Linked DNA regions of Homo sapiens. The protein of the gene in region 3 interacts with the protein of the main gene of each other region in a pairwise test. Each region holds a gene or a part of one and is shown on either strand. Other genes may lie near its edges.

Region 1 (3,652 bases), on a different chromosome or scaffold from region 3:
TATCATTCGTAATGACTATTGAATTGCAATATTCCCTGAAACCAAAGTTTTTATTTTCTTATCTCCTAGGGAATCTCTTAGTAAAGTTCTGTATAAAAGGCTTGATTGTGCAGAGGTGAGTGGTATTTAAAAGGCCATATGATTATTTTTTGAGACACAAATGAACACATACTTTTTTCAGCTTCAAATGAGGCAATTCTATTACATAGATCTTTTTAATAAAAGAGAAACAGATATGTTGAGAGGCTACCCATTTACACTTCTAGCAATTTAGGATTTTCAGCTATAAAAGAATATAGGTATACATTTCTCTACCAAAGATAATTTTACTTGGTATTTCTTTTTCTTGAATGAGCAGATTAATCAATATGAAAATTTAAAGTGTTGAGGGGGTGCCTATAGTATCCACTAAACCTAAGGTAAAACACACTTCTGCAAAAGTCGAACAACCTCTAATTCACTACTGTTTGTATTCTGAGACTACCAGACTTATGAACATTTTCATAATATTATAAAAAATAAAAATATAACCGAAGCAACTTCCTTGAGTAAAATATTTTTACATAAATCTACCTGTTAAAAACAGATTTTAAAAAAAAATTTTAAGGCAAGTCCTAGTTTTATAAGACTAACAGTTATGTACTGAGAATCAGAAATTGTCTCTGTGCTGATAAAAACAGGGAACACAAGCTATCAAATTTCTATGCATAATTAATGCAACTGTGGATGAAGGCACCCACCTGGGAGTGTGTGGGTCTCTACATTATTTATAATCTTGAAACTGACCAAGAGCACATGTTTTCTTCCCAGCTGCTGCCTTGCTTCTCTAATACCACTGCATGTGCAGGATTTCAATACTGGTGTAAATATTATCTAGACCACATAACATTTCCAACATGAAGTAATAGCTATCCAGACAATTTGTAGCCACTTCCTTTGGAGACAACTGGCCTGGACCTATGTCTACTGCTCTTAATTAAGTCATAAAAGGAGCCTCACAGTCTCACATACATCCTTTGATCACTTACTTGAGGGAGAAAATATATTTCGTGGAATCATATTTTCACAAACAAACTATCTTTATTGTTGATGAAGGTTAGTTATAAAATAGCACTCAGAAATCTAAGTAGCCATAGAGAAGTATTTTTCCTCTCAAAAAAATCAGACTTGTACCTTTCGTTTTGAAGGCAAAGTTACATAACTTGCATACATAAGGCCGAACATCAGTATGGGTACGGATGTGTTTTTTGAGCATGCTTGGCTTCTTACAGCGAATCCCACATTCTTCACAAATGTACTTTCCCCGGCCACGTCCTCTGACATATACATAATCTTCATTCGATTTGTACCTGTTTTAAAAAGAGGGAATCCAGTGTGTTTTCAAATATTCTTAGCATGCTATATATTAAAGCAAAAGCTAATTATTTGCACGGCAAAGTTTTATGAGGGTCTTTTGCAGACAATTATTCAACTTTACTTCTACGAAGCCTGTGAAATTTATGCAGTAAATGGCTGAAAGAACTAGATAATAGATTTGGCACTGTAAACAAAATGTAATGCTCCATGGAATTCAAAATGGAATTGGCTTCACTATTACATGTGAATTTATAGAGTTGGGAAGTAGATGTTCAAAATGACTTATGTAAACCTCAAAGAGCTGCAGACCTTTGGACTGGATTCTAGTATGGCCTCCAATCAAGGGACATACAAAAAGCATACCAACATGTTCATCATGTATCTTTTGTTAACATTACATCATCTAAGATGTACATGTACAAACATACAACCCTCTAAATTTGCTAAATTAAGTATAACTGATAATAGAATTCTTCATTGCAAGTTCCTACTCTATTTTTACAATCCTGGCACGAGAGTGCCTCAGAAATTTCTAGTTTACACAGGGTGAGCTCAGCTCACCAACTGTTGTCTACAGATTTGATCTGCTCTTCCCAAAGACCATGAATCTGTAATAATGTGGAGTCTAAATTTCAACTAGCTTCTTCAAGGTAGTTACATAATGAAAACTAGAGATTCTATTTTTAATCAAATTTGCATTTGTTTCCAGAAGGGTTTCATAGAGATGTTTGAAAGGATATCTGAGGTCATCTTGCTTAATCAAATCGGCTAGAAAAACAGTCTTAGGTATTTTCTTTGATAATCAAGGGAAGAAATCTACCCAATGCTCAACCATTCCATTTTAGAATACAATAAAACATAATTTGTCATAAGATATAGTAGTAGTATACGGACTAATTCAATGACTGTCATTATCTCTTAAGTCAAAGCTAGGCTAGAATTTTGGGTCTAATGTTATTTTTGGAAAGACGCTCCATTTGGGGAGTTCTTTTCATAACTTCCAAAGGTAAACTGACATGCAAAATGCCCTAATCCACTGTGGATTTAGTTAAAGGCACTAAATTTACAGTTTTTTTACATTCTAAGAGCATTGCAAACTTCCTCATTTTATCCTAGCTAATCCACAAACAGGAATAAAGGCAAGTTTAACTTCAGTCATCCAATCTATTGAAATAATTTTAAGAAAGGAAATCCATCCACATATTTAAACAGCAACTCTGTTACGGATTCACATCTAATCTTAACGTTATCTACTTTTTGGTCAGTACCAATCCAGATGAGAGTTAAGTAGAAACTATTCAAAACTATGAATAATCAATTTTGCATGTCTTCCGTTCCTTTAAATTTCCCCCCTTTTACCAGGAATTTTGACTTCCACTTGTTCTTCAAAATTATTTTGAATTTTATCTTTGTCTTTTGCAATAAAGTAGAAAAAACCCTAAAGATGCAAATGTCTTTCACCTTTAAATTTCACTATTCTCTGCCCCTAACTAGATGAAATTGCTTAAGACATATAGACTAAAACAAATACTTTTGTACAAAGCTAATTTTCTTCAAGGAAGGATACTTCAAGCTTACTATAGCCTGCCATCATAGTGATGGGAAATGCATTTTATCATCAAGCAGTATAATTTTATTTTCAATGTCTTAGCTGATTAACTTGCTTCCAGAATGAAAATACAGTAAAATTCTGTATAAAATATAATGATGTATTAGAGAAACTGGTATAAATAATATATCATACAACAGTTCTACAGGCCCATGAATCTACTTGATAAGGTAATTGATGGATTTTGAAAAACATTCAAAGCTGTGTTTAACTAAATTATTGAATTTATTATTAAACCTATCAGTTAGACAATATACACTTACAATTTTGGTCAGTAATACTTTTTATTTTTTTAGCTATCACTTTGCAATTGCCAAAATAAGAGGAGGTAACACAAGGTTTGGAAAAAACACTTGGTCACCACTGGGCAGAAATTGGGCCACAGATTAAGAAGTAATGGGACACAGCCCATAAAACGGGGCAATTAAAGGAGGAGGAAATGAAATATGGGCACAATCCTTTTGGATCACCAAAACACAGCAATAAAATGTTCACATACGCTTTTTCACTTGTGTCCTTCGTTAGTGGAGATGGGCTCCCCAAAGCATACAGTAATTGTGGAGTTCTCGCTAATCTATTGGTGCAAGTACACTGCTATGAAGGCTGCTGAATGTGAGAGGGTTGATTCAGTCACAGGGACCTCTCAGTCTCTGAGGAGAGATAAAATCTATATTTCTCTCGTTTGTG
Region 2 (3,652 bases), on a different chromosome or scaffold from region 3:
AGTGTTCTTTGCTCTTATGCGATGGATGGACCCGTCCTCTATGCACAGTGCGATGACACCACGGCACTCCCCATTCTCCATCAGGAGATCCAAGGCAAAATACTCCACAAAATAGCTGGTATCATATCGCAGAGACTAAAAGAAAGGAAAAAAAAAGGGCAAGAAGTGTTAAGCCAAACTTTAAGGTTTTAAGGTGGTATCTGCTCATGTGAATAGGTGAAAGAACTTGATCCAAATGGACCAGGTAAATCCAAGGAGATCAGCAACAGTGTCAGTGACACTGTCAGAGCCCGAGAGGCATTCCACGCCGAGCAGTACAGACAAGGCAGGTGTGCTAGAGAACGCAGCAGCAACAGCTCCTATTTTGGTGACACATTTCCTACTTCTACACAACCCGAAGAGGCACTCCACACTGTCCGGTGGCCGCATGCAGCTCCACTCGGAGTCTGGTGCCAGAGTGAGGTCCGCAGACCATGCAGTCACAGCCCAGATGGGAGCTACTGGCAACACATAACCACTTAATTAATTAAAATAAGTCAAAACATTCAGCTCTTCAGCTACACCTGCCACATTAGCAACAGCCCCATGTGGCTGGCAGCTACCAAAGCGGACGGTTGCAGACGAGCAGATTCCGGCACCGCAGAAAGGTAGGCGCCGGACAGCGCTGCCCGCCTGGACCTGCCGTTCCCTCAGCCAGCACAAGTCGCTCTTGTAAGCCTGGGCCAGCTCCCCACATGACAGCTCCTGCTCCAGATGGAGCCGCGGTCTCCTCCCACCACACACTTGTCGATGCACTCAGCCACAGAGAAGTCACTGGTGTTCTAACAACCTGCAAATTAACGATCCGTCCCCATGCATCAGAAAACAACAAAGTTCAGAATATTGATTACTCTGAATCAATACCGTTCAGAATATTATTTGGCCATGCCAAAGTTGACTCTGATTACCCAGTAACTATTGTCACCTCAAGTCTTTCTTCAGTGTTAACAGTTAATATTAAAACAATCCATGGCCGGGTGCGGTGGCTCACGCCTGCAATCCCAGCACTTTCGGAGGCCAAGGCAGGTGGACTGCCTGAGCTCAGGAGTTCGGGACCAGCCTGGGCAACATGGGAAACCCTGTCTCTACTAAAATACAAAAAATTAGCCAGGCATGGTGGCGTGCGCCTGTAGTCCCAGCTACTCGGGAGGCTGAGGCAGGAGAATCACTTGAATCCAGGAGGTGGAAGTAGCAGTGAGCTGAGATTGTGCTACTGCACTCCAGCCTGGGTGACAGAGTGAGACTCCGTCTCAAAAACAAAACAAAACAAAACAAACAAAACCAATCCATTCAGGAACTCAGAGGTGGTAAAAGAGACTTAAAATACTTGTTCTTTTTTTTTTTTTTTTTTTGAGATGGAGTCTCATTCTGTTGCCCAGGCTGGAGTGCAGGGGTGCGATCTCGGCTCACTGCAAGTTCCGCCTCCTGGGTTCACGCCATTCTCCTGCCTCAGCCTCCCAAGCAGCTGGGACTACAGGTGCCTGCCACCATGCCTGGCTAATTTTTTTGTATTTTTAGTAGAGACGGGGTTTCACAGTGTTAGGCAAGATGGCCTCAAACTCCTGACCTTGTGATCTGCCCGCCTAGGCCTCACAAAGTGCTGGGATTACAGGCGTGAGCCACCGCACCCAGCCTGTTCTTTCTCTTTTTTTGAGACAGGGTCTCCTGTTGCCCAGGCTGGAGTGCAGTGGTACGAACATGGCTCACTGTAGCCTCAACCTCCTGGTCTCAAGTGATCCAGGAGCCTCAGCCTCCTGAGTAACTGGGATTACAAGCATGTACCACCATGCCCAGCTAATTTTTAAACTTTTTGTAGAGACAGGGTCTTGCTATGTTGTCCAGGCTGGTCTCAAACTTCTGGTCTCAAGTGATCCTCCTGCCTTGGCCTCCTAAAGTGCTGGGATTACAGACCTGAGCCACTGTGCCTGGCCTGCTTGCTCTGCTCTTGTATGTTGAGTGTCACATATCCCAAGTTAAAACCTGGTATGTAAGATTATCGATTCAACTTTCTGACATAGATGCAAGAAGTCACACACTGCCTTAGGGACAGCTCCTCAAGGCACACGTCTGGTCCTGTCACATCCACAGTCGCTGCATGCGCCCCACGCTGCTGTTCTCTGTTGCTTTTTACGTAATCTCTGGCTGACTCACTGGGCACGCTAACCCATTCCCCACTGTCACCATAAGCCCCAGCACTACGTGTCCTGTCTCAGGTGGACGGGGGCGGCCTTACCCTTCCATATAAGGTGTGCAATAGCGAGTGGCCAGTCCGATCAGCCACACAGCAGCACCGATGGGCCTGCCCGCCCTTTCCAAACTTGAGGCTCTGTCCACCAAATGCACGCTGATAAATCTTCCCATCTTCAGTTCTGCTAAACGGCATGCCATAATTTTCTAGCTGTGAAAGATAAAAACAAACAAAAACCTTAACACCTTAAAGGAGTCAAGATATTCGCAGCTAATCTACACTAAACAAGTTTAACACAAATCTGCAAACCCAAAGTAACCTATTTTATGAAAATGTCAACACTTCATCAAAGAGAAGTTTTCTTGTTACATATAATGCATAGTTCATAACGGAAAAAGACTCTTCTTGTGAACTTTGCTCATCACCATTCTTTTGGCTGCCACATCCGCCTCAATTGCTTACATTTTTTTCCAGGATTCTTTTGTACTAGAAACAGACCACGAGAACACCCAGAGCCTCCCGCCCATCACCTCGACCACGGCGGCGGGGGCCTGCTCCGTCATGTAGTGGATGGCATCCTGGTCCCCCAGCCAGTCGGAGCCCTTCACGGTGTCGTAGAAATGCCACCTCCAGTTGTCCTCCTCCATGTTCCCCAGAGCAGCATTGATTCCTCCCTGGAAACACCAACCACTCCTTACAAGCCACAAACAGGAGCGCCAACTTTGTCTTCCAGGCCCAAATCCACCCGCTGGGGGGATTCAGAGAAAGCCAACTACTCACACAGTGACTCCCAGTGAGGGCTGACCTCAGCAGAGGAGCAGCGAGACCCGACAGATTCCAGATCACAACCCCTCCCCGACTCGCCCAGTGATTCCATCCTTAGCCTCAGTCTCCTCATCTGCGTGGTGGAGACACAGGGAACTCCAGGAAGGGCTGACTGGAGCAGTGAGTGAAAGGCTACCTGTAATATGCTTATAACCTAACCTATCTGGCACAGAAAAGGTACTCAACAAATCTTTCCAGATAATTTTATTAACAAATCTTCCCAATGGCATTTACGGGCATGTGTTAAAGACTAGAAGTGCTTCCTGCCAAGTAATAAACTCCACACTCAGAGTCGCACTCCCCTGTACCCCAGCTTCCTTTGGCTGTGTGTGCCCACCACTGTCTTACCCCTCAGAGAGTCCCAGAAGACAGAAGCACAGGGACAAATGAAACCCTTGCCCTTTTCTTCCCCAACCTAAATTCTGATTCCTCCTCTTTAGGTGATCTCCTTTTCTTAAGGTGTTGGGGTGGCGGGGGTAGGTGGGGAAGGTAGTAGGCAAGATGGTCAGAGAAAACCCAAGTGTGACTGGAGTCTGAATTAGGAGTGACAACAAGTCTCCCGCCCTTCAAAGTCCCCAGGGAAGAGGCTCCAGGGAGAGA
Region 3 (3,652 bases):
GGGCAGCCCTTCTCCCCAGCCACCTGCAGGGCCCCCACAGTGGGCCTGGGCTCCACATGGAGAAGCGAAGGAGTGGGAGGGAACCCTGCGGGGCAGCGGGCGGTCTCCTACCCAAGCCGGCCGTGTACCCATCACACTGCATTCGAGGAGCATTGCACACAGCAATCCTCATGTTCTAAGTGCTTCCTACCTCCCTTGTGGGAAATCTGAGAGAGGGGTTTGGGTACAGAACTACTCTCCCAGCTCAGCCAGAAGCCAAACTTCCATTCACCGTCTCCCGCAGATTTACAGTTTTCTCTATCCAAGGAGAAGACACCACTGAAAAACCATGGCAAAACCACGTGGTAACCTTCAGTTTACAGAACTTGAAGCAGAGGCTATTTCAGAAAGAAAGGATAATAAAGACGTTTATTTGCATTTGTCAATCAACTTAACATACAGCTGAGAAAGAAAGACTAAAAACCCTCTAATAAAGATTGTTAACTGACAGAAGCATTTTGTTTTTGTTTATTTTTTGAGACAGGGTCTCGCTCTGCCACCCAGGCTGGAGAGCAGTGGCGCGATCTCCACTCACTGCAACTGCCACTTTCTGGACTCAAGCAATCCTCCTGCCTCAGCCTCTCAAGTAGCTGGAACTAGATACACACAGCACTGCACCCGGCTAACGACAGAAGCATTCTTATGATACGATCTCCTCTCGGCTCACTTCATCTTAGTCCTGGAGGTCTGACTGTCTAGTTTCTTCTTCTTCAGAATTAATGTTTCCTGAAAAGAAAAGAGAAACATGAGTATATCTCATATTTACTTTGTTCTATTTTTAAAGCCTTTATTCACTAACAGATCTTTTGCCGAAAAAAATTATTGTAACTATTAAGCATTCATCAGTCAAAAATTGAATGTTAAATTTTATCTCATATGCACTTCAACAGTTTTTTCTTTTGGTACCCGACATAAAATAAGCAAAATACGTACTCAAAGTAAATGCTAAGACAAGACTATCCATGTAACATCAGTAATTCTCTTATGCCTGCACACCTGTCCAAAACAGCCAGCTTTGTGGCTAAAACATGTAATTGCTTGGCTATTAATTTAAAAGAAAAGCAGGCCGGGCGCAGTGGCTCATGCCTGTAATCCCAGCACTTTGGGAGGCCAAGGCAGGCGGATCACTTGAGGTCAGGAGTTCGAGACCAGCCCGGCCAACATGGTGAAACCCCGTCTCAACTAAAAATACAAAAATTAGCTGGGCATGGTGGTACATGCCTGTCAACCCAGTTACTTGGGAGGCTGAGGCAAGAGAATCGCTTGAACCCCGTGGCAGAGGTTTCAGTGAGCCGAGGTCACGCCATTGCACTTCAGCCTGAGCAACAGAGCAAGATTCCATCTTAAAAAAAAAAAAAAAAAAAGCAGAAATTTGCCACATTCTTATAAGACGCTATATTTAAATGTTTTGTGAAAGGTAGAGCTATTTTTTATTATTAATTAAACTCTATAACTTTCACTGTTGGGTATATTAAAGAAGAAATTAGCAGGGTAAATCTCCAATGTAATGTGGGATTCATGATGAATACATGCTGAACTTGCATTATTTTGATAAATGTTCTGCCGACTAAGCCTATTTTGTATTACTCCCTTTTCACTTAGGGCCCTCCTGACACTGTGGCCTGGGTGACCCTTTGCTGGGGGCTGTTCTGTGCCCTGCAGGGTATTCAGCACCGTCCCCGGCCTCCACCCAGGAAGATGCCAGCAGCACCTCCCTCACCAGCCTCCCAAGTCTCCAGACATTGCCAAATGTCCCCTGGAGCCCCAAAACCACTGAGTTAAGGGGGTGTTCCCTCTGTCCAAGGCTGGTGCATGAACCCACAGTCTCAGACGCCCGCTGGTACTGGGCATCGTCCACTCGGCCCCATCTCTCCCAGTCCGGTTTTCAGGATTCCTCCTGCTCCATCCCCTCCGTTATCTCCCCCACCAAGTTTCTGGGGCCTCCTGCCTTGCCTGGCTCCAGGGCACCCATCCTCATTGCCCCAGAGAAGCTCAGAGAGCAAGCCTGATACAGGCAATCCCCACAGCTCCCAGAGGTCCCGCCTACTGGGCTCAGGATCAAGTTCAAAGGCCATCTGGTTCCAAGGGAAAGGGGCCACCTCCCCACCCCCACACTCTTCTGCTGTCAGACTCTGCTCTCTGCCTGGAATTTCCTTCCTGGTTTCACCCATTCCTTGCCACCTCCCTCCCAGCTAACCCGGAGTTTCCTGGTCCTGCCCCAGGTGAGTCATCACCTCTCCTGGGTACATGGTAACACGTCCCTGTCACTGCAGGGAACTCACTGATTCCTTTATTCCAGCTTCCCATTAGGTGCTAGAGGGCGAGAGCCCAGCCCCTCACTCCCACACTGCCTATCAAACCCAGTGTCTCCCCCTCCAGCTGTGCTCCACAGTGACTAAGGACTGACATCTGTGGGCACAGCTAGATGCTGCTGTAACACTGTGCATACTCTAGCCACTCAGTCCTAACAGAATCCTGTGGACTCCCTACCTACCAGGGCTCACTCTATCCACCCTCCCTGTGCAAGTCAGAGAAGCAGAGACGATGCTCACTTGTAAAGCCAGGTTTCCACCTGACCCCACGTCCCACCTCAGCACTGCGTCACTGGGTGCATTGCTACAGCGCTCAGGGGAATTACCGATCACGAAAGTCTATGCCAGCGCTCAGGGGAATTACCGATCACGAAAGTCTATGTGTGCTTCAAGCATCTAAGAGAAAACTGCTTTATGTGATTTCATTATTTCAGGTATTATTTTCAAAGGAATGGGAAGTATATTCTTAATTTACAACAGAGACAAACTAAGTGGAATGGGACTGCAGACCCCGTGCCTGAGGCCGCCGTGCCCAGGCTGTTCCCAGATGGCCCTTTCCCTCACAAGCACGACACCCTCTTTCAGTCAGATGTGAAAAGTGCGTTAAGGGAAGCGAGTCCTCTCTCCAGACTTTCTGCAAGTGCCCACAAGCACTTGGGGAAAGATTTTTAAAGATTCCAGGAGCCTGAGGCTTCAGTCAGTCAGAACTGAGGTCAAATCCCTGCCCTATGAGCTGGCAGAGGCAGAAGTTTCTAGATTAATCTTACATCCAAACCCATTGAAAAAGAGCTAGTTCCCGACACCACTAGTCTGAAACCATACTCCTGTTAGTCAGCCCTGCTAAAAATCATGCAAATCCCAGCACTTTGGGAGGCCGAGGCGGGCCTCCTGTGTGAGGTCAGGAGTTTGAGACCAGTCTGTCCAACACGGTGAAACCCACCTCTACTAAAAATACAAAAAAATTAGCCGGGCATGGTGGCATGCACCTGTAATCCCAGCTACTTGGGATGCTGAGGCAGGGGAATTGCTTGAACCAGTGAGGTGGAGGTTGCAGTGAGCCAAGATCGCACCACTGTACTCCAGCCTGGGTGACATAGCAAGACTCCATCTCAAAAAAAAAAAAAAAATCATGCAACAGAAGAAAGCCAGGCTCTGCATGTCTGACAGGGCTCTCCAGCCTGGGGTCGGTCCTCCTGTGACAACGCGCATGGGCACCGCTGCACACCCAGGCCTCTCCCACTGCAGCCAGGCTTGCAGGAGGGCCTGCCAGGGAGCAACGTTCTGAGATGGCTCCAGTGAGC

Evidence for each region.
Region 1: the proteins of RSPH1 (region 3) and HIVEP2 interact in a two-hybrid assay, tested with the Homo sapiens proteins (one large-scale study listed by BioGRID and IntAct).
Region 2: the proteins of RSPH1 (region 3) and SDHA interact in a two-hybrid assay, tested with the Homo sapiens proteins (one large-scale study listed by BioGRID and IntAct).

The regions. Positions count from the first base shown.
Region 1 is NC_000006.12:142,763,626-142,767,277, forward strand, and holds part of HIVEP2 (transcription factor HIVEP2), read right to left. Parts: intron 1,350-3,652; coding exon 1,174-1,349; intron 1-1,173.
Region 2 is NC_000005.10:224,668-228,319, reverse strand, and holds part of SDHA (succinate dehydrogenase [ubiquinone] flavoprotein subunit, mitochondrial), read right to left. Parts: intron 2,902-3,652; coding exon 2,758-2,901; intron 2,438-2,757; coding exon 2,273-2,437; intron 136-2,272; coding exon 1-135. UniProt on the Homo sapiens protein: Flavoprotein (FP) subunit of succinate dehydrogenase (SDH) that is involved in complex II of the mitochondrial electron transport chain and is responsible for transferring electrons from succinate to ubiquinone (coenzyme Q).
Region 3 is NC_000021.9:42,472,106-42,475,757, forward strand, and holds the end of RSPH1 (radial spoke head 1 homolog), read right to left. Parts: intron 766-3,652; coding exon 713-765; 3' UTR 381-712; downstream 1-380.